Linked DNA regions of Homo sapiens: regions 2 and 3 are each reported to be linked to region 1. The links are microRNA targets in miRTarBase. Many come from high-throughput screens and were not tested one by one. Region 1 holds a microRNA gene; each other region holds the end of a gene's coding sequence.

Region 1 (7,000 bases):
GGAGTCATCACAGGTGAGTCTTAAGTGGTACCAGATCCTCTCCTCTCCTGTCCTGGCATCTCTCGGCTCGCTGCCCTCAGCTGCCTGGCCCTGGTGGTCTGGGCACAACCCTCTGAGCCCAGGGCAGGCCAGCTCTGTGCCTTTCTGGGAAGGGGGGTGGTAGGGAGTGACTGATGGACCTGGTTGGTTTTCCTGCAGGTGTGACCCCAGCCCGTCCTCCTATCCCGGTCACCATCCCCTCGGTGGGAGTGGTGAACCCCATCCTGGCCAGCCCTCCAACGCTGGGTCTCCTGGAGCCCAAGAAGGAGAAGGAAGAAGAGGAGCTGTTTCCCGAGTCAGAGCGGCCAGAGATGCTGAGCGAGCAGGAGCACATGAGCATCTCGGGCAGTAGCGCCCGACACATGGTGATGCAGAAGCTGCTCCGCAAGCAGGAGGTAGGCAGAGGGGCAGGGTGGTGGCGGGGGAGAGGGTAGGGGGGCGGGGCCGCAGTGCTCAGCTGTCTTCCCCTCGGCCCTGCCCCACAGTCTACAGTGATGGTTCTGCGCAACATGGTGGACCCCAAGGACATCGATGATGACCTGGAAGGGGAGGTGACAGAGGAGTGTGGCAAGTTCGGGGCCGTGAACCGCGTCATCATCTACCAAGAGAAACAAGGCGAGGAGGAGGATGCAGAAATCATTGTCAAGATCTTTGTGGAGTTTTCCATAGCCTCTGAGACTCATAAGGCCATCCAGGCCCTCAATGGCCGCTGGTTTGCTGGCCGCAAGGTGGTGGCTGAAGTGTACGACCAGGAGCGTTTTGATAACAGTGACCTCTCTGCGTGACAGTGGTCCCTCTCCCCGGACTTGCACTTGTTCCTTGTTTCCTCTGGGTTTTATAGTGATACAGTGGTGTCCCCGGGGCCAGGCGCGCTCTGCCCAGCCCAGCCTACAGTGCGGATAAAGGTGCGGATGCTGCTGGCCCTGAACGTCCGTGTGTCTGCCGTCGGTCCTGTCACCGATCCTGGGCGTGTGTCCTTAGGGGGTCTAGGGCGAGGAGGCAGGGTTGGGGGGGTCTCTGGACCTGCTTCCTGTTGGCAGGAGGGGCCTGCCGTGGGCGAGACCTGGGCAGGGGGTTGGCGCCCCGGGCCCCGTCCCGCGGGTGGCGGCGGCTGGGTGGGCGGGGCTGCCTGGGGCGCCAGGCTCTCGCGCGCGGGCTCGCAGCCGTCCCCGCAGGGTGGTGCTGAGAGAAGGCTGGGCACCGGGACACCGCGACCCGCTGGACAGCGCGCGCTGCCAGTGCTTTTGTGCCGCAGAGCCGGCCGTCCAAGGCGGGCGGGCGGGCATGGTCGCTTCCCGGGAGGAGGCTGTGCGTTAAGATTCGTGGCCAAATGCCGCGGGGCCAGGGGCCGGGCTGAAGACCGGAGGGCGGAGGGCGCCGCCTCTCGTGGATTGTAGCTCCCAATATCCCGCGCGCGGGGCGGGCCCGGCTTCCCGGCACGCTTTGCGCGGTGCCGCTACGGGTCCTCAGAGGCGGCGGCGCGCGGGGCCTTCTGGGGGCCGCAGTCCGGGCGTGCTAGGCGGCGAGGGCCGGACTCGGCTTCCCGACGGGCTGCGCGGCGGCCGGGTGGGTGTCGGCGGGGCAGTCCGGCGGGCAGCGGCGGTTCCGGTGCGGCACAGCGGGCGGACGAGCGGGCGGGACGAGCTGAGCAGGACCAAGCGGGATGCGGAGCCGCCGCCGCCGCCGCTCCCCGCGCTTCCTAAGAGTCTGAGACCCGCCGGGCCGCGCCCCCTGCCCAGGCCCGCAGTCCGAGCGTTCCGAGCGCGGGCCGGGCCCAGCGCCGGCCGCGGCCGCGTCCCCGTCCAGTCTCGGGCGGCCCGCCCCCTGCCTGCGCCCCCTCCCCATGCGCGGCGCCCATGCGGACTGAGCCCCGCCCCCCGGCCCCGAGCCCGCCGAGCGCCGCCGCCGGAGCCCGCGCCGCCCACCCGCACCATGCTCAAGTGCATCCCGCTGTGGCGCTGCAACCGGCACGTGGAGTCGGTGGACAAGCGGCACTGTTCGCTGCAGGCCGTGCCGGAGGAGATCTACCGCTACAGCCGCAGCCTGGAGGAGCTGCTGCTCGACGCCAACCAGCTGCGCGAGCTGCCCAAGGTGAGCGGCCGCCCGCACCTGCCGCCCAAAGGCGCGCCCCCAGCCCGTGATTCCTCCGGCGGCAGAATCTGCCCGGGCGAGTCACCGCAGCCTCCAGCCGGCCCTGCTGGTTTGCACTGGCCAGGTCCCCACCCCAGCCAGCCCCACCCTTCTCTTCCAGCCGCCCTGGCTGGCGCAGGTGGCAGCGGTCATCAGGTGCTTGCCTGGGGATAGCGATTGTCACCGAGCCTGGAGGCGGAGCCTCAGAGTGAAACCCGTGGGGATTCAGGGAGGTGGATGGGGTTAGGGTGGAACTTGGATTCAGGTGGCTGATGAGTACTAGCTTCTTGGGCCGCTCTGGAGGTGGGTCCAGACCTCCTCTCCTTTTTTGCTGGGTGCAGGGGTGAGTGGGGGAGCCCTCTTGATGTACTCTTTGCTCTCGGATCTGTTCGCTGTCCCCCTTTCTTTACCCTTGCTTCTCGTGGTCAGGTGCTCTCCTAAGGCTGCTACAAGAAAGGAGGCTGGAGAAAGCAGATTAAAAAGTATTTCTTTTCTGGAGATGGGGTGCTGGGTGATCAGTACCTAGGGGTTGGGTGTCCCAAAGAATGTGACCCTGTTCTGGCCGTGGCAGTGACAGCTCGGTCCTCTGTGGCCACCTGCAGGCCTCGCGCGTAGCACTGTGCCTGTGGTACTGTGTTATTGTGGGGAGCGTTTACTGAGTTCTTGCTGCAGAACCAGGCCAGGCTTGTTGTCAGGATGCAGTAGCAGAGGCCAGTGTGGGCCCCTGGAGGGTGGCAGAAGTGGTTCAGGGGCTGGGTGGGCCCTGAGGTAAGACACAGGGTAGGGGATTGGGGCTTTGTCTGGTCGCCAGCAGGTGTCTTCTCAGAGTGGAGGCTGGTGTGAAGAGTAGAGGGAGGCAGCCACAGTGGGCGTGTGTACCGTGTGTTTCTTTCCTTTTTTTGCAAATGGGGTGTCGTGGTTAGACCCCAGGACCCGGTGTGACCTGGAGCAGACAGAGGCCTAGGGACTCTTGACTTGTGACACTCACGTGTCCAGGAGCTCTTCTCTGCTCTGCAGTGGTCTCTGCCACAGAGTCCGTGTCCTCCCTGCCCACAGCCTTTTTTCCGGCTGCTGAACTTGCGCAAGCTGGGCCTGAGCGACAACGAGATCCAGCGGTTGCCTCCCGAGGTGGCCAACTTCATGCAGCTGGTGGAGCTGGACGTGTCCCGGAACGGTGGGGAGCCTGGGCAGGGGCTGGGTGGGGTCTGGGGAGTGTCCGCTGGGGCTGCAGACGGCCTGCAGGCCATGGCATCTGTCCACTGTGACCCTCTGTGACAGATATCCCTGAGATCCCGGAGAGCATCAAGTTCTGCAAGGCTCTGGAGATCGCGGACTTCAGCGGGAACCCCCTCTCCAGGTGGGTGGCAGCCTGTGGTGGGGTCGGTAGGGGCTATGGGTCCCACAGCCCTGGACTGGTCATCCGAGGGCCTCTGCTTCCTCCCATCCAGGCTCCCTGATGGCTTCACTCAGCTGCGCAGCCTGGCTCACCTGGCCCTGAATGATGTGTCTCTGCAGGCACTGCCCGGGGACGTGGGCAAGTGAGTGCCTTCTCAGGTGGAACTAGGGTGGGGTGGGGGACCAGGATTGGCCCTGCCCCTGCTGCCACTGCTTTCCTTCCTCTTGCCCCAGCGCCTGGTCTCTCTTTCAGCCTCGCCAACCTGGTGACCCTGGAGCTCCGGGAGAACCTGCTCAAGTCCCTGCCAGCGTGAGTGTGACAGGCATTCTCCTAACAGCCAGGGCAGGGCCACAGCCCAGGGACCAGGGCTGCGTGGCCACACCTCCACCCTGCTTCCTCTGCAGGTCCCTGTCATTTCTGGTCAAGCTGGAACAGCTGGATCTGGGAGGCAACGATCTGGAAGTGCTGGTGCGTGGAGGCCTGACAGGGCAGAGACCGGAGGGCGGGCCACGGAAGCAAGGGCAAAGAAGGGGACAGCGAGCAGATCCGACAGCAAGGGGCACCTCGGGAGGGCAGGCGGGTGGGAGCTGGGTGTGGGGGCGTATAGTCTCTTGAGCACGGCGCAGCAGGAGGCTTTGCCTCATAGTCACTATTTTCTCTGTTCCTTCTTGCAGCCAGACACTCTGGGGGCTCTGCCCAATCTTCGGGAGCTGTGGCTTGACCGGAACCAGCTGTCAGCACTGCCCCCGGTGAGTCAGGGTGGGGCTGGCCCCCTGCTTCGTGCCCATCCGCGCTCTGACTCTCTGCCCACCTGCAGGAGCTCGGGAACCTGCGGCGCCTGGTGTGCCTGGACGTGTCGGAAAACCGGCTGGAGGAGCTGCCTGCTGAGCTCGGCGGGCTGGTGCTGCTCACTGACCTGCTGCTGTCCCAGAACCTGCTGCGGAGGCTGCCCGACGGCATCGGTTAGTGTGCCTGGGGGTGCCTGGGTGGGGCACACGGAGCCTGGCCCTGGGAGGAGCGTGGGGCGTCGGGGCTGTGTGTGGTGTGGAACACAGGGGAGGATCCTGAGTGTGCCCAGGCTCTGGGAGCTGTCCCTGGGGAGGGGAGGTGGGACCCTGGGGCAGCCCAGAAGGCTGAGGAGGCAGCTGGTGGTGCTGGAGGGGGCGGTGGAGTCTGTGAGGGCGGAAGGGTGGCAGTGCCACTGGGGCCTGGTGTTTTCTTGAAGGAGGTTGGGTCAGGCTTGTGGGGCAAGGTAGGTAGGGTCCTCCCGAAGTACGGCGGCGGCAGAAGGGGCTGGGGGCCTTGCTGTCTGCCTTGAGGGCGCTTCTGGCCAGGTGGGTAAGGCACGTCTGGGGACCATGCTCAGCCTTGTCCCCCTGTCTCCCCGACGCCAGGTCAGCTGAAGCAGCTATCCATCCTAAAGGTAGACCAGAATCGGCTGTGCGAGGTGACCGAGGCCATCGGGGACTGTGAGAACCTCTCTGAGCTGATCCTCACGGAGAACCTGCTGATGGTAGGGTCTGGCTTGGGAGGCAGAAAGGATGGGGCCGTCGGGGGTGCAGAACAAGGACAGGGCATCAGCCTGTGTCTGCTGCTGGGGGGTGCTGGTGGCAGCCTGACGTGGAGCCACTCAGGAAGGGCTCTTCTCTTGTCAGAGGGGGAGCATGCTGGCCGGAGGTGAGGCGGGGCAGTGAGGCCAGGGCAGGGGCCTTTGCCGTTTACCGTGAAGAATCTAGGTCTCGTGTTTATCGCTGTATGTTGTAACACTGGGGAGCGGTTACAGAAGAGGCAGGAATGGGAACTTATTTGTCTGTAGGGAAGACAGATGGAGAGCAGGCTGCTCCCCAGGGGCGTCTGCCTGCCCCTCACAAAGCAGGGCAAGCTGAGGCACCAGGCCACGGTTCGGGACGGTGGTGTTGCTATCCCCATCCCCAGGCTGGGAAACAGGAGCTAGCTGTGGGGAGGGTGTTCATGGGAGTTTCCGGGGGGGTTCCTCACTGGGGAGATGGAGAAAGGGACTCTGGGGTTCAGGGCCCTGGGAAGGGGCTGGCCCTGAGCAGGCAGGCTGGAACTGGGGGCCTGGGGAGCCCTAGGGATGACAGGGCAGACCAGTGGGGCACCAGACAGGCTCACAGGGCGCAGCCTCGCAGGTCAGTCCAGGGCACCCATGGGAGAGGGTCAGGGATGACCTGGTGGGGTGTTTTGGTGGTGGGGACTGAAGGCTGAGGGCAGTGGGCAGAGCTTGGGGAGCAGAGGGCACGAAGTGGGGTGGAGACAGCTTCTGTGGTCAGGTCCTTGTCCCGGTCTCCAGGGGCTGTGAGGGACCCTGGCTGGAGCTGGCCTGGGGTGTCTGTGCCCTCCTGCCAGGGGCTGTCATCTCCTTCCCACCCCCAGCAAGCCCCTAGCGTCCTCTGACCTCCTCTTCTTGGCCAGGCCCTGCCCCGCTCCCTGGGAAAGCTGACTAAGCTGACCAACCTCAACGTGGACCGGAACCACCTCGAGGCGCTGCCGCCCGAGATCGGGGGCTGTGTGGCACTCAGCGTCCTCTCCTTGAGGGACAACCGCCTGGCCGTCCTGCCACCAGAGCTGGCCCACACGACAGAGCTGCACGTGCTGGACGTGGCGGGGAACCGGTGAGTGCCAGCCTTGCCCTGCGGGCCTAACCGTGGCCCCAACGCCTGCTGACTGTGCCCGCCCGGCCCGCAGCCTGCAGAGTCTGCCGTTCGCGCTCACCCACCTCAATCTCAAGGCCCTGTGGCTGGCAGAGAACCAGGCGCAGCCCATGCTCCGGTTCCAGACGGAGGATGATGCCCGGACCGGCGAGAAGGTGCTCACCTGCTACTTGCTGCCCCAGCAGCCCCCACCCAGCCTCGGTAGGTTGTTGGCAACCGGTGCTTAGCGCGGGGTGGCTCTCAGGCAGGGTTTGGGGACTAGCCTGGGTCCTGACGCTCACCTGCTGCAGAGGATGCTGGGCAGCAGGGGAGCCTCTCGGAGACCTGGAGCGATGCCCCGCCGAGCCGCGTCAGCGTCATCCAGTTCCTGGAGGCCCCCATAGGTGATGAGGACGCTGAGGAAGCTGCAGCTGAGAAGCGGGTATGAGGGTGAGGATCTGGGGGGCGAACCTCTGCCTGACCCCTGCCCTGTGGCTGCTGCTCATCCTTGTCCCTACAACAGGGCCTACAGCGCCGGGCCACACCTCACCCCAGCGAGCTCAAGGTGATGAAGAGGAGCATCGAGGGGCGGCGGAGCGAGGCCTGCCCTTGCCAGCCAGACTCTGGGTCGCCCTTGCCTGCAGAGGAGGTGGGCATGGAGCCACGGCAACCTGGCGGGCCGCTGACCCGGGAGCTGTGGTGGTCCGGTCCATCCTGGGAGTGGGGCTGTGAGGGCCAGGGCAGCACAGAGAAGGAGCAGGAGATGAGGCTGGTGACAGGTTTC
Region 2 (7,157 bases), not on the chromosome of region 1:
TGAAGTCATTATGGTCCATGAAATCTCCAGAGACAGGTGGAGAAGCCCTAAATGGGGCTAGGATGCCAACCAGAGAATCTGTCCTATATGACCATAGTTTCAAGATAGAAAAAACTGTCACTTACCCTCTATTTTTATTTCACAGCTAAACACACTCAATTGATTACCGAATTACCATTGTTTATTCAGAGGATATTCCTCTTTCTTCCCTCCATAGAGCAGAATCGGAGATCAGAGGAGGCTCATAGAGCTGAACAGTTGCAGGATGCGGAGGAGGAAAAAGATGATTCAAATGAAGAAGAAAACAAAGACAGCCTTGTAGATGATGAAGAAGAGAAAGAAGATCTTGGCGATGAGGATGAAGCAGAGGAAGAAGAGGAGGAGGACAACTTGGCTGCTGGTGTGGATGAGGAGAGAAGTGAGGCCAATGATCAGGGGCCCCCAGGAGAGGACGGTGTGACCCGGGAGGAAGTAGAGCCTGAGGAGGCTGAAGAAGGCATCTCTGAGCAACCCTGCCCAGCTGACACAGAGGTGGTGGAAGACTCCTTGAGGCAGCGTAAAAGTCAGCATGCTGACAAGGGACTGTAGATTTAATGATGCGTTTTCAAGAATACACACCAAAACAATATGTCAGCTTCCCTTTGGCCTGCAGTTTGTACCAAATCCTTAATTTTTCCTGAATGAGCAAGCTTCTCTTAAAAGATGCTCTCTAGTCATTTGGTCTCATGGCAGTAAGCCTCATGTATACTAAGGAGAGTCTTCCAGGTGTGACAATCAGGATATAGAAAAACAAACGTAGTGTTGGGATCTGTTTGGAGACTGGGATGGGAACAAGTTCATTTACTTAGGGGTCAGAGAGTCTCGACCAGAGGAGGCCATTCCCAGTCCTAATCAGCACCTTCCAGAGACAAGGCTGCAGGCCCTGTGAAATGAAAGCCAAGCAGGAGCCTTGGCTCCTGAGCATCCCCAAAGTGTAACGTAGAAGCCTTGCATCCTTTTCTTGTGTAAAGTATTTATTTTTGTCAAATTGCAGGAAACATCAGGCACCACAGTGCATGAAAAATCTTTCACAGCTAGAAATTGAAAGGGCCTTGGGTATAGAGAGCAGCTCAGAAGTCATCCCAGCCCTCTGAATCTCCTGTGCTATGTTTTATTTCTTACCTTTAATTTTTCCAGCATTTCCACCATGGGCATTCAGGCTCTCCACACTCTTCACTATTATCTCTTGGTCAGAGGACTCCAATAACAGCCAGGTTTACATGAACTGTGTTTGTTCATTCTGACCTAAGGGGTTTAGATAATCAGTAACCATAACCCCTGAAGCTGTGACTGCCAAACATCTCAAATGAAATGTTGTGGCCATCAGAGACTCAAAAGGAAGTAAGGATTTTACAAGACAGATTAAAAAAAAATTGTTTTGTCCAAAATATAGTTGTTGTTGATTTTTTTTTAAGTTTTCTAAGCAATATTTTTCAAGCCAGAAGTCCTCTAAGTCTTGCCAGTACAAGGTAGTCTTGTGAAGAAAAGTTGAATACTGTTTTGTTTTCATCTCAAGGGGTTCCCTGGGTCTTGAACTACTTTAATAATAACTAAAAAACCACTTCTGATTTTCCTTCAGTGATGTGCTTTTGGTGAAAGAATTAATGAACTCCAGTACCTGAAAGTGAAAGATTTGATTTTGTTTCCATCTTCTGTAATCTTCCAAAGAATTATATCTTTGTAAATCTCTCAATACTCAATCTACTGTAAGTACCCAGGGAGGCTAATTTCCTTAAAAAAAAAAAATCTATCCATCTACTTCTCTCTTACCTGATTTATGTGTTAGAATAAATTCATGAAATTCGATTCCAAGCATACGAAAGATGCCTAAAGTTGATTCTATGCTCCTTAGATCCAGACAGAATAATGAGTACAGGTTTATGAAATTCTAAAAGTTTCTGTCGTCTTTAAAAAGGAACGTGCAGTATATTTCTATCTGGCTGTTTAGATAACCCTTTCCTTGTATTAATTGTGAGCACGGAGCTCACTGGTGGGGGAGGTTCTGAAACTCTCTGCCCTCCTGTGGTTGAATGAAGATGTTGCAAGACTTGCACAAAGGAGGTTATTCTTCTGACAGCATCAACTTTTAGAGATGGTTCTTTTTCATCTTTCCAATTCAGTTACTTGACAGTCTCCTTCCCCAGTATGCTGAAGTTTGTTAAGAGTCACCAGTAATTGTGCTTTTCAGACAGTAGTGCAGCTTCAAAATCGAGGCCATCACTGGGCTGATGGGCTGGGAGAACCTTGCCATGTGCCTGCCTGTTTCCTGCCCCCTTAGTCACTGCCCATTTCCTGCCCCCTTGGTCGCTGACACACCTTCACCCAAAGTGCCATGGTTCTGATGGTGGCAGTTCCATCTCCCTGACATCAGGAAGCTTTTCTCGATCAGAGCAGAGCGGGGCCTGCCTGCCCTCGTGTCACTGGATTTCTTTCTCTTATAATCAGCTGAAACAGAGTTCTCAAAGAACAGTAAACTCAGGTTCAGAGGTATTATGGAATAAGAATGGTTTCATAGTTTGGCTTTTCTATATAATTCCTCCCTCTCAAACTGAAATATTCATTTTTTTAGTGGAGTATTTGACTAGAGAGAAGGTAAGGCAGAAATACAGTCTACACTGGCTTTTAAAAATGTAAAGCCAATTTCCAACCGGACCCCAAATAGTACAGGTTGAACATTCCGTTCCAACAATCCAAAACCCCAAATGCTCCAAAATCTTAAACTTTGAGTTCCAGCATTCCGTCAGAAGTGGAAAATTTTACACCTGACCTCATTTGACAGGTGGCAGTTACAGTGCAATCAAAACTTTGTTCCATGCCCAAGATTATTAAAAATATTGGATAAAATTACCTTCAAGCTATGTTGTATAAGGTGTATATAAAACAAATGAATTTTGTGTTTAGACTTGGGTCTACTCCCAAGATACCTCATTATATATATACAAAAATCCCCAAATCCAAAAACATTTGAAACACTTCTGGTCCCACACATTTTGGATAAGGGATATTTGACCTATATCTAATTATATAATAAGAAAAATGTATTTTCTTTTTTTTTTTTTTTTGAGATGGAGTTTCACTCTTGTTGTCGCCCAGGCTGCAATGGCACAATCTTGGCTTACTACAACCTCCGCCTCCCTAGTTCAAGGGATTCTCCTGCCTCAGCCTCCCAGGTAGCTGGGATTACAGGCATGTGCCACCATGCCTGGCTAATTTTGTATTTTTAGTAGAGACGGGGTTTCGCCATGTTGGTCAGACTGGTCTTGAACTCCTGACCTCAGGTGATCCGCCCGCCTCAGCCTCCCAACGTGCTGGGATTACAGGTGTGAGCCACCGTACCTGGCAGAAAATGTACTTTCTTTCTCAGAAATACTTTTAAAAAAAATTGAAGGGTGAGGAGAAAAACATCTTGGAGAAGAGGACCCATTAAAACTTTAAATATCTGTGGGAACCATTTTTCCTGATTTTCCCTTTTTTAACATCATGGCAAAGATGGGTTTTTTTCCAACAAAATTTAATTTAATATCTTTCCACTTGAAGATTTTAGGTTTGTTTTCAATACTTAATGAATATAAAACTAAAGGAGAAAAGCCAACCTGAAATAATTTAAACTTTATATGAACATTTCGATAAGAGTTTGTGGATTTTTTCTGTAGATAATATATTTGATCCGGAACTCAAGTGCATGGAAACATGATTTTGATTTTTAAAATCTAAAAAAAAAAAAAATTAAAATCATGCTTCCCTCTATTGCAGTATCAGTTATTTAGTCACAGAATGGTATTTTATGTAAATTAAAATTAGGTGAATGCAATGCAGGTAACTGGTTTTGGAATGGGAATGTGCAGTGCTTTATGTTTGGGGAGTTGGAGCAGGGTATCTTTTCATCAATTAGAAGGAAAGTTTGAAACTTCTGATTACCTTTATGTTGGTTTCTCTTATTATTTGTCTCTTGCTAGATCTGCTAAACCAACCCAGCTTGCTCAGAGATCTCATATTGAAGCAACATACAGGCAATCCACATCTTTCTTTCCCTTTGAAGTATAGTCATTGGATGGGATGAGGGACAGGGCCTGTTGGGTTCACAGGGCCTTGCACTGCATGGGCACATACTTAAAAGCTCTTGTGCATGGAATCCCTGTCTGTTAGCCACAGGCCTCTTTAGCTCTATACATTCAAAATAACTACTGTAGTAGAAAATAGATAAGCTTCAGCTGAGTTGGCTTTTGATAGTGGAAAAAAAACAAAATTTGACTTTTTATGGCCAAAATTCCTTGTTGACAGCTGTGATGTTCTAATATGATTTGGGAATATGTCAGTCTACAGAACCTGCATCCTGTAAAAACACCTTTGGGGTAGACGATAAAAGTCATTTTTAAGGCAAATACTTACCATGTGACTTTTTATTACCAAATGCATCAGTAGTGGAGCTGGTATGTTGTTTCATAGGATGGAAACATTAGAAGTCCAGAGAAAAATAAATTTTAAAAAAAGGTGGAAAAGTTACGGCAAACCTGAGATTTCAGCATAAAATCTTTAGTATGAAGTGAGAGAAAGAAGAGGGAGGCTGGTTCTGTTGCTCGTATCAATAGGTTATCTGTGTCCCTCATCTTGGTGTTACAGTGTTATTTCTGTCAGTATTATGAATATGTGGTTGACCCATCCTGTCAAATGTACCAACATTTTCGAAAGAATTCATTCAAATCTCTTATGCCAACAGAAAAGTTCCTTCTTGTTTAATATCTCTTTACCTCAGTCCTACATTTTGATTCTCTGGAGGAGATTTTAGCTTGTCTTAAAAAGCCAAATTTGGAGTCATCAAGCCTGCTGAACCTGATGGGGCAGCTTTTTGAACAGCTTTCTGGAAGTAAGAACTTCAGTTGAAAAGCCCTTTGATCGCTTCAGCCCGGGACATGCCCTTCAGATGGCTTATTCTCAGTAAAGCTTTATGTAGACTGTGACACTGTATATGTGTGACTCGTACAACTTTGACGTGTTTCTGAAGTGGTTTAATCGTATTTGTTATTAGCTTCTTTGTGGAAATGCAATTTTTATACTAAAAACATTGCTTATTTGCAATGCAATATGTTATAAATTTGTTGTTTATATTACTGGTATTAGTCTTAGCCTAATGAACCTAATTATTTTTCTTTCTGTATTCTTTGCTTCCTCAAATAGCATCTGCAGCAATTGGAATGAGAAATCCAGATATGTGTTTCAAGTAGTACATTGCCTGAATCACAAATCACTTGATCACAGTATTGTATATAATCCCTGATCCTATTTGTTTCATTTTATTGTAAATTCCCATTTGCATCAAAACCTAATGATAGTGATTGGTAAGTAAAAACAAATGGTGTATTGCTTTTCATACAAGTGTTTTCACAAAAGCCATTTGCCTAGGCAGCAAAAAATATTAATTTGTTAAAAAAAATTTTCCTTCGTGTCCATCCTCCATCTAGTCTGTTCATTCATTCTCTCTCTTTCTCCCTTCCTGACTCGGTGAAACTCAGACCATGTGCCCTTTAGTTGCTCTGGAAAGTGCACAAAACCAAGGCAGGGTCCAAAGATCCAAGGCTCTTCCAGCCAGTGTGTTGCCATCAGAAACCTCTGGGGTCTCCCTCTGTCCTGAGGTCTTGGGGTAGCCAGATGGCAAGGGATGCTACTAATCCCCCAAGACACTGTGGATTGGTCTTGTCTTTGGGGCTTTCAGAAAACTCCCTTCTACACCTAACTCTCCCCACCACTATAGTGGAAAAGCATCAAGGTGGTAAGGTGGGTCCTTGAAACACCCTCAGAGACTGAAACAATGGAGATTGGATTTTTGTCTTTTGGAAGATGGTGGGGGATGTGTGTAGTGAGAAGACAGTTACTAAACCTGCATACCACCAAGGCCCTCCCTCAGAGATACTGGCTCAGAATGCTTATTTGCCTATACAGAGAAAAATGTCTGTCGTGCTGTCTGCCTAGATGACTTTGGTTATTCATCCTTGCCTATAGCAAAATGCAGCTTTCAAGCCAACAACACTGAATTACAAATTTAACCCCCTGCTTTGCTCTAGTCTTGAATGCTCTTTGGAACATATTTCACAGTAATAGAAATTCTTTCTTGGAACATGTGAGCTTCTTGAGATTGATAACTGTATTACGACAGTCCAGCCTGTGCTAACAGACCCGCAAATCTCGGGGGCTTTAAGAACAAGAATTGTATTACTGATTCACATAGCCCAGGCCAGGCATCCCAGGCAGGCTCTGTCCCATGCAGGTTTTTCTGGGCCTCAAGGTCAAGGGAGGCTTTGCTGTTTAACATGTGGCTGCTGGGCCGGGCATGGTGGCTCACGCCTGTAATCCCAGCACTTTGGGAGGCCGAGGGAGGTGGATCACCTGAGATCAAGAGTTTGAGACCAGCCTTAGTAACATGGCGAAACCCTGTCTCTACTAAAAATACAAAAATAAGCCAGGCGTAATGGCAGGTGCGTATAATCCCAGCTACTCAGGAGGCTGAGGCAGGAGAATTAATTGAACTCGGGAGGCAGAGATTACAGTGAGCCGAGATCATGCCTTTGCACTCCAGCCTTGGCAACAGTGCGAGACTCCATCTCAAAACAAACAACCAAAAAAACGTGGCTGCTAAGGTGGCTGTGATCATTTCCATCCCAGTCAGTCAGAGGAGTAAGAGATGGAGGAACATTGCTGAGAGATTTTAAAGCGAGGCTGCCACACGTGCATCATTTATGTTCACATTTCCTGTGAGAGGACTTAGTCACAGGGTCATACCTAACTTAAAGGAAGACTAGGATGTGTAATCTTGCTGTGTGCTTAAGAACAAAGGGAACTTGAGAGCTAGCAATCTCTTGCCACAGTGACTTTTTCTTGCCCACCTTTGTGAGCCTAGGACCTTCTATAGAGTAAGCTCCTGGGACATAGTATGAATGCACATATGGCAGGAGAGGGCAGAGTACATATGGCCCCAGTGCTGGAGGTCTTCCTGCTGGACTTGACCACTGTGGCTCTTCAAGGTACCAGAGTTTTCAAACTGAGAATTGTCATTTCATGGAGTTTGTATTTTACTTGGGAAGGTGAATATTAGCAGGAAAAGAGTTACAAGTGAAAAAGTTAAC
Region 3 (7,157 bases), not on the chromosome of region 1:
TCTGCCACAGCCTGTCTAGTGGCCCACGTTTGCTTTGTGCACAAAGCTTGGTAGCTAGTGGTGAACAGACCTGCCACCCTGCTGGCCCCCGCTTGGTATGGCTGTGTAAGCAATTCTTGTTCACTGATTTTAAAAATACCATGTTTGAGGCAACAGCTTTGCTTCATGGCTGCAAAAATCTCTCCCCTGGTGAAGAAGCTACCCCGTGGGTATACGGCCTTGTGGTGGGGAGAATAACGGTCCTCCCCAAAGATGTTCACGCCCTAATCCCTGGAATCTGTGGCTGTTACCTTACCTGGCAAAAGGGATTTTCCAAATGTGATTAACGTTAAGGACTTTGATAGGGGGATCACCCCGTATTATCTGGGTGAGCCCACTGCAATCATGAGTCCTGAAAATGGAGAAACGTTTCCTGGATGTAGTAAGAAAGAGATATGCCAGCCAGGTGCGGTGGCTCATGCCTGTAATCCCGGCACTTTGGGAGGCTGAGTGACCCCCATCACTTGAGGTCAGGAGTTCGAGATCAGCCTGCCCAACATGGTGAAACCCCATCTCTACTAAAAATACAAAAATTAGCCGGGCATGGTGGGAGGTGCCTGTAATCCCAACTACTTGGGAGGCTGAGGCGGGAGAATGGCTTGAACCTGGGAGGCGGAGCTTGTAGTGAGCGGAGATCACGCCACTGCACTCCAGCCTGGGTGACAGAGTGAGACTCTGCCTAAAAAAAAAAAGAAAAAAAAAAAAAAAGAATTAAGCAACATATAGGACTGGATACTGGGTAATGATCAACGTTAACATTTTATAGGCCGTTTTAATTTTTTTTTTTTGAGATGGAGTCTCGCTCTGTCGCCCAGGCTGGAGTGCAGTGGCACGATCTCGACTCACTGCAAGCTCCGCCTCCCAGGTTCAAGCCATTCTCCTGCCTCAGCCTCTCCGAGTAGCTGGGATTACAGGCACCCGCCACCATGCCCGGCTAATTTTTTGTATTTTTAGTAGAGACGGGGTTTCACCGTGGTCTCGATCTCCTGACTTTGTGATCCGCCGCCTCGGCCTCCCAGAGTGCTGGGATTACAAGCGTGAGCCACCGCGCCCGGCCTCGTTTTTTTCTTTTCTGTTTTTTTTTTTTTGAGACAAAGTCTCGCTCTGTCACCCATGCTGGAGTGCAATGGCACGATCTTGGCTCACTGCAACCTCTGGCTCCCGGGTTCAAGCGATTCTCCTGCCCCAGCCTCCCGAGTAGCTGGGATTATAGGTGCGCACCACCACACCCGGATAATTTTTGTATTTTTAGTACAGACAGGGTTTCACCATGTTGGTAAGGTTGGTCTCGAACTGCTGACCTCGGGATCTGCCAGCCTCGGCCTCCCAAAGTGCTGGGATGACAGGCGTGAGCCACTGTGCCCAGCCAGGCCCTTATAATTTTCTACGGGCCTATGCTTGTTCTAAAAATATAATAGTAGAAAACACACTGGCTTTTCTGCAATCAGATCACTAATAGAGTGAGTTTTCTGTTTTTGTTTGTTTGTTTGTTTGTTTGTTTGTTTTGAGACGGAGTTTCGCTCTTGTTGCCCAGGCTGGAGTGCAATGGCGCAATCTCAGCTCGGCACAACCTCCGCCTCCCAGGTTCAAGCAATTCTCCTGCCGCAGCCTCCCGAGTAGCTGGGATTACAGGCATGCACCACCATGCCTGGCTAATTTTGTATTTTCTTTTTTTTTTTTTTTTTTTTTAGCAGAGATGGGGTTTCTCCATGTTGAGGCTGGTCTCGAACTTCTGACTTCAGGTGATCCGCCCACCTCGGCCCCCCAAAGTGCTGGGATTACAGGCGTGAGCCACCGCACATGGTCTTTTCTGTTTCTATGAAGCTTTGATAGGCTTCATTACATGCAGTTTCTCCTAAGCATAAAACTCCCTCTGAAAGCAACAGGACTTAGAAAGGACAAAAACCATGGAAAGCATCAACTGTGTGTTCAGTGCTGGATGTCATATTTAAGGACTGTGAAACGTAGGGAAACTTACAGCACCTTCCTTACCCTGAATTCACAGACAAATCAAAGCATTTGGCATTGGCAGCAGGCTTGGATTCCAGGCAATTCCAGAACCAGTCTAGATGCCTATGGGAGCACCGTCTCACCTACTGCTTTACCGAATGAAGACCTTGTGTAATCCATCCACTCCCATCCTCATTCAAGACACAGAGATTTCAGCATAGATAACAGGATATTCCCAGGCTTCACTTTTAACAGGACATTGGTGATTTTCACTGTGCCCCTTGGCATATGTAATGACTATAATTCATATGCGGATTCTTAATGAGAAAAATTTACAAATTACTGTTCAAAGTAAATTATGTTGTCTATGCAACCACTGCCTAAGCTAGAGGAAAGGGTGGGCTGGGTGTGGAAGTGAGCAACTCAAGGATATATACAAACAAATATACACAAAAACACACACACGGACACGACTGGTATCTGAAGCGTCGATGACTACGCTTGCTCTATTACCTAAAAATAAAGTGCAGCACAGTATAGCTATTCTGGTCTCTATACAATTAAAACTAAGATTGAGAACTCAGATATAACTCTTTTAAAGGGAATGCTAAATTCAGACTGAAAATGCCTGGCTCATTCATCTATAAACAGAACAATTTGAAACACATTTATTCATTATAAAGCATGCAGAACTTGGAAGACTATAATCTACTATTTTTAAAGACTGAGCCAAAAAGTACATATTGCTTATACAATATTTCAATTTTTCTTGGACTGAAACACAATAAATACCTCAACACAGCCTGTGCAAATAAGCAGCTTCAATATTCCTTCAGATTATTCCTAGTGCCTGAATGACTGACTCCACCATGATCCAGCTGCCTCAGGTTGTATTCACTAATTCTATGCATTCTAACAGACTGTATTTTTGGATGCAACTATACTATATGATTTACAGAAAACAAATCAGTATACCAAGATAAATACACTTCAGTGTGAAGTTTTAAAGTGCTACCAGAAAGTCAAATCGACTACTTACTCTCCACTCACTTTTTAAATTTTATTTTTTGTAGAGACGAGGTCTCACTATGTTGCTTAGGCTGGTCTCGAACTCCTGTGCTCAAGTGATCCTCCTGTCTCAGCTTCCCAAAGTGCTAGGATTATAGACGTGAGCCACCATGTCTGGCCTGTCCACTGACTTTTAAAATGTTCTACATAGATTTTGCCAAGAACTCCAATATTCAGTGACAATCATTTGAGTCTTCGTGGAGCTTTCAAAATACAGGTCTTTCTGCTGCCTTGCTGGGCCGTAGCTCAGATGTGGGAAGTAAACAGAATGGTCAAGATTTGGTCGGAATGGTCGGTAAGAGAATGGTCGAGGAAAAAATTCCTGCAAAATATGTTGCAAAAGGCTGGGCATGGTGGCTCACACCTGTGATCCCAGCACTTTGGGAGGCCAAGGCAGGCGGATCGTTTGAGCTCAGTTCGAGACCAACATGGCAAAACCCTGTCTCTACTAAAAATACAAAAATCAGTCAGGCTTGGTGGCATGCGCCTGTAATCCCAGCTACTCGGGAGGCTGAGGCGGGAGAATCACTGGAACCTGGGAGACAGAGGTTGCAGTGAGCTGAGATCGCACCACTGCACTCCAGCCTGGCTGATAGAGAGACTCCGCCTCAAAAAAAAAAAAAAAAAAAAAGTTGCAAAACCAGGTCCTCTTACTTTCCCTGCCTTCCTCTGCAACATTCCTTTTGAGATCAGTTTTTTTTTTAAATTATACTTTAAGTTTTAGGGTACATGTGCACAACGTGCAGGTTTGTTACATATGTATACATGTGCCATGTTGGTGTGCTGCACCCATGGTTCTGAAACTTTTTTGGCCATAGCCCCATAGGGTCCTTATTTAAGATATTCCCAAAGTCCCACACCCCAGAAATTCTGATTCTGTGAATCTGGAAAATCAGGGGCAGGAATGTTGCCTTCTAACACCCCGGGTGATTCTAACACAGGTGAATCTGGGCCACTATACAATACTGGTTTTTGTTTGCTTGTTGAGACTTGAGTCTGTTTCTTGAGACTGAGTCTCTGTCGCCCAAGCTGGAGTGCAGTGGTGTGATGGCAGGTTGCTCACTGCAACTTCTATCTCCCGGCTTCAAGCGATTCTTGTGCCTCAGCCTACCCAGTAGCTGGGAATACAGGTGTGCGCCACCAAACCCAGCTAATTTTTGTATTTTTAGTAAAGACAGGATTTCACCATGTTGGCAAGTCTGGTCTTGAACTCTGGACCTCTGGTCATCTGCCCACCTCGGCCTCCCACAGTGCTGATATTACAGGTGTGAGCCACCATGCCCAGCCAACACTGCTTTAAATACAAATTCTTCCTCTTGGGATCATAAGACTTACACGGACCTCTAAGTACCCAACATTTTCTCTTTATAAATATCAATCTTCACAAATATTATTTCCTTAAGTACATACTCCACTTAGCTCCCTCCTCTCAATAGGCCTGCCACTGAGGAAAACACCAGCTCTCACGGCACAGGCTACACTGAAGTTCAGTCATCGTTATTTAAAAAAAAAAAAAAAAAAAAGCTCAACAGTAGGTTTATCTCACTAGAGGTTTCCAACACACTTTATTTTGCAGACCACTGGTTTGTAGCTTTTGAGGACCAACATCTCTATCAATTCCTATAAAATGTCCAATCACTTTCAGTTCCGTAGCAGGCTCTTCCATACTGCACACCATGCTTATGGCTGGAGGTCCAGTTACACATGCATGAAGGCTGCCCTGCCCACTGGTTCCTGGAGGAGGGCGCGTCCGAGTTAAAGCCTCTTCCAGGAGCTTGAACTTCCCAGGGGTCATTTCCTTTGGCAAGAAGTCAGTTTACATGTGCAGCTTTGGTGCCTGTGAGCAGAAAGCACCAGAAATGGGCAGGATGTGCTGCTTTTTCTCTCACGAAGATGGGCACTTGAGGATCCAGCGCCCTTGTGCTTAATGACAGGAATCCCTCCTCATTGCTTAGTAGGTTAAAATATAAGGAAGCCTCCACTTTACATAACACAGAGAACACCTTTTTAGATTGCCTATTTATTCTAGAACTACAAAATTTAATTCAAGAAAATATAGGTCCCATGAAAGACTTAAAAGTTTTATAAAACTAAAATCTAGTTTTTCCCGATAAATTGTACTTTAGGCAAAACCCTCCCAACGCTTCTAAAATAATACTAAAAGGGGCATCTGATTATACAAGAGCAATTTAAAAAATTAAATATTTATTTGAATAACAAGTTTAAGTTCGAGCTGCAATGTTGGCAATGCAGGTTTTTAACACAGATCACAAAAAGCGTGCACAAAAAAGTACTGGCGCAAAGGACAAAATAATGCTAAGAATTAGGCCAAACAGCTGCTGATTTTAAGAAAACAAAAGGCCTGAAATCACTGTACAAAATAGAAAATGTATTAAACACTACCATCCACAGAACAGTCTTTACTATTGATTATATTTAAAAATTATTTGTGTAATTATATATTGAATTGTAAATGAGTATTATACATGAACCTCCATTCGGAAGGCAATTCCTTGTAGCACTATAGAACATCTAATAACATTGCAAAAAGTATCCTTTTTTGCTATCGATAAAACAGTTAATGGTATTACTGTAAATATCAGGAAGGCTACAAAAAAAGAAATAAGATTTCTTTTTTGTCTTCAAAGTGTTTTCCATGCAATGAAGCACTTGCTGTGTTGAACTGAATGCACTACTGGAGAATGTTCTGGGTCCGAGATGCTCTTGAGAGACAAGACTAGGCTTTTCAAATCAAACACTCAAAGGAATCATGCAACCCTCTTATGACTGGGATACCGTCATGTGCCACTTACCAATGCTGTCTCTCCAGAAAACCATTCAAGACGCTTAAAAAAAAAAATCAGACTTATATGATAAATATACATAAAATGAAGACACCAACTGCTATTTGACACGACTACGGGTAATGCCTGTGCTATGTGAAAGCACCTTTAAAAAGCCTATGCGGCAAGAGATAAGTGTCTAAAGATTCAAAATGAATCAACAGTATTGGATAACAATATAATTCTCAACTCAGAAGCTGCCTCAAGATTAGGTGCATCTTCAGTTAATGTAACAGGAAAAAAAGGCAATGGATTTTATTTTATTAATTGTATCCACTTACAAACCGACCTAAGGTCACCCCGATGTGTAGACACAATGAGATTTTTGTTGTTTATAGTCTTTAATTGAAGTGATAAGGGAAATAGATCTATTTAAAAACAAAACCAAACAGCTATTTCTGTCTAGATTAAGAGGTGGCCCCGGGTGTGGGATTCACATTTTGAGTGGCCACTTGTGGTGCGACCTCGATGATCCGGGGTTTGTCTATGATTCTGGCTGTGCGGTTGCCCTTCTCTACAATCCCAATAATCCATGCTTGGTGGCCTTCACCATATTTGGGGGACTTTATCTCTGCACAGAACCGAGCTGCTTGCTCACGTGGTAAACAGATCAGAAGGCCGCCTGGCAAAAGAAAACAAGAATGACTGTTAGTGTTGACATGACAGCAGCTTCTCTGCCTCTGCTGCTTCTGCAGAGATCCAACTTCCATCAACAACTTGCTGCCACCTATATGCAAGTAGCTCTTCCCATTCAACTAAGCAGCTTTTTTTTGAGACAGGGTCTCACTCTGTGGCCCAAGCTGGAGTGCAGTGGTACAATCACAGCTCACTGCAGCCTCAATGTCCTGGCTCAGGTGACCCTCCCACTTCAGCTTTCCCAGTAGCTGTGATTACAAGTGTGCACCACCACACCTGGCTAATTTTCTGTAGAGACAAGGTTTCACTGTGTTGTCCAGGCTGGTCTAAAACTCCTGGACTCAAGCAATCCACCTGCCTTGGCCTCCCAAAGTGCTGAGATTACAGGAATGAACCACCACTCCCAGCCTAAGAGGCCTGTTCTATGCTGTAATTAAGCAATTGCTAGTAAACTCCTAACACACACACATATACACTCCAACTTTCAACTGTGAAAATGACCTATTCGTGAACCACATAACACTGTGTAGGGGTAAGGTGTTTGGGGCTTCAATAACCCATGTGGTAGCTATTTTTTCCAAGCTACACTGAAACAAATATTGACAAACAAAAGGGAACTTT

The links. The annotated mature microRNA hsa-miR-937-5p reads GUGAGUCAGGGUGGGGCUGG and lies in region 1 at 4,315-4,334, shown strand. An mRNA with a match to its seed (bases 2 to 7 or 8) in the 3' UTR can be bound and repressed. Matches are read on the target gene's strand: a 7mer-m8 pairs with bases 2 to 8, a 7mer-A1 pairs with bases 2 to 7 and ends in A, and an 8mer does both.
Region 2: the mRNA of TMX4 is a reported target of hsa-miR-937-5p. Seed matches in the 3' UTR shown: 7mer-A1 at 1,368-1,374.
Region 3: miRTarBase lists SEPHS1 as a target of hsa-miR-937-5p. The part of its 3' UTR that is shown has no 7-base or 8-base seed match.

Annotation. Positions count from the first base shown.
Region 1 is chr8:143,810,344-143,817,343 of GRCh38, reverse strand. MIR937 (microRNA 937) reads left to right here and starts at 4,302; the gene lies at 4,302-4,387. SCRIB (scribble planar cell polarity protein) reads left to right here and starts at 1,571. Exons shown (of 37, transcript NM_182706.5): 1 at 1,571-2,130; 2 at 3,226-3,343; 3 at 3,448-3,526; 4 at 3,618-3,707; 5 at 3,818-3,874; 6 at 3,970-4,033; 7 at 4,240-4,314; 8 at 4,383-4,527; 9 at 4,960-5,078; 10 at 5,999-6,198; 11 at 6,272-6,438; 12 at 6,528-6,658; 13 at 6,740-6,865. The coding sequence starts at 1,972. PUF60 (poly(U) binding splicing factor 60) reads left to right here. Exons shown (of 12, transcript NM_078480.3): 10 at 1-13; 11 at 199-434; 12 at 525-1,000. The coding sequence ends at 824. RefSeq lists enhancers at 979-1,611, 1,612-2,244, 2,529-3,193.
Region 2 is chr20:7,975,682-7,982,838 of GRCh38, reverse strand. TMX4 (thioredoxin related transmembrane protein 4) reads left to right here. Exons shown (of 8, transcript NM_021156.4): 8 at 218-5,493. The coding sequence ends at 588. Among named protein-coding and RNA genes, the nearest start is that of HAO1, 39 kb to the right of the region's middle.
Region 3 is chr10:13,312,835-13,319,991 of GRCh38, forward strand. SEPHS1 (selenophosphate synthetase 1) reads right to left here. Exons shown (of 9, transcript NM_012247.5): 9 at 4,594-6,522. The coding sequence ends at 6,308. Among named protein-coding and RNA genes, the nearest start is that of PHYH, 16 kb to the left of the region's middle.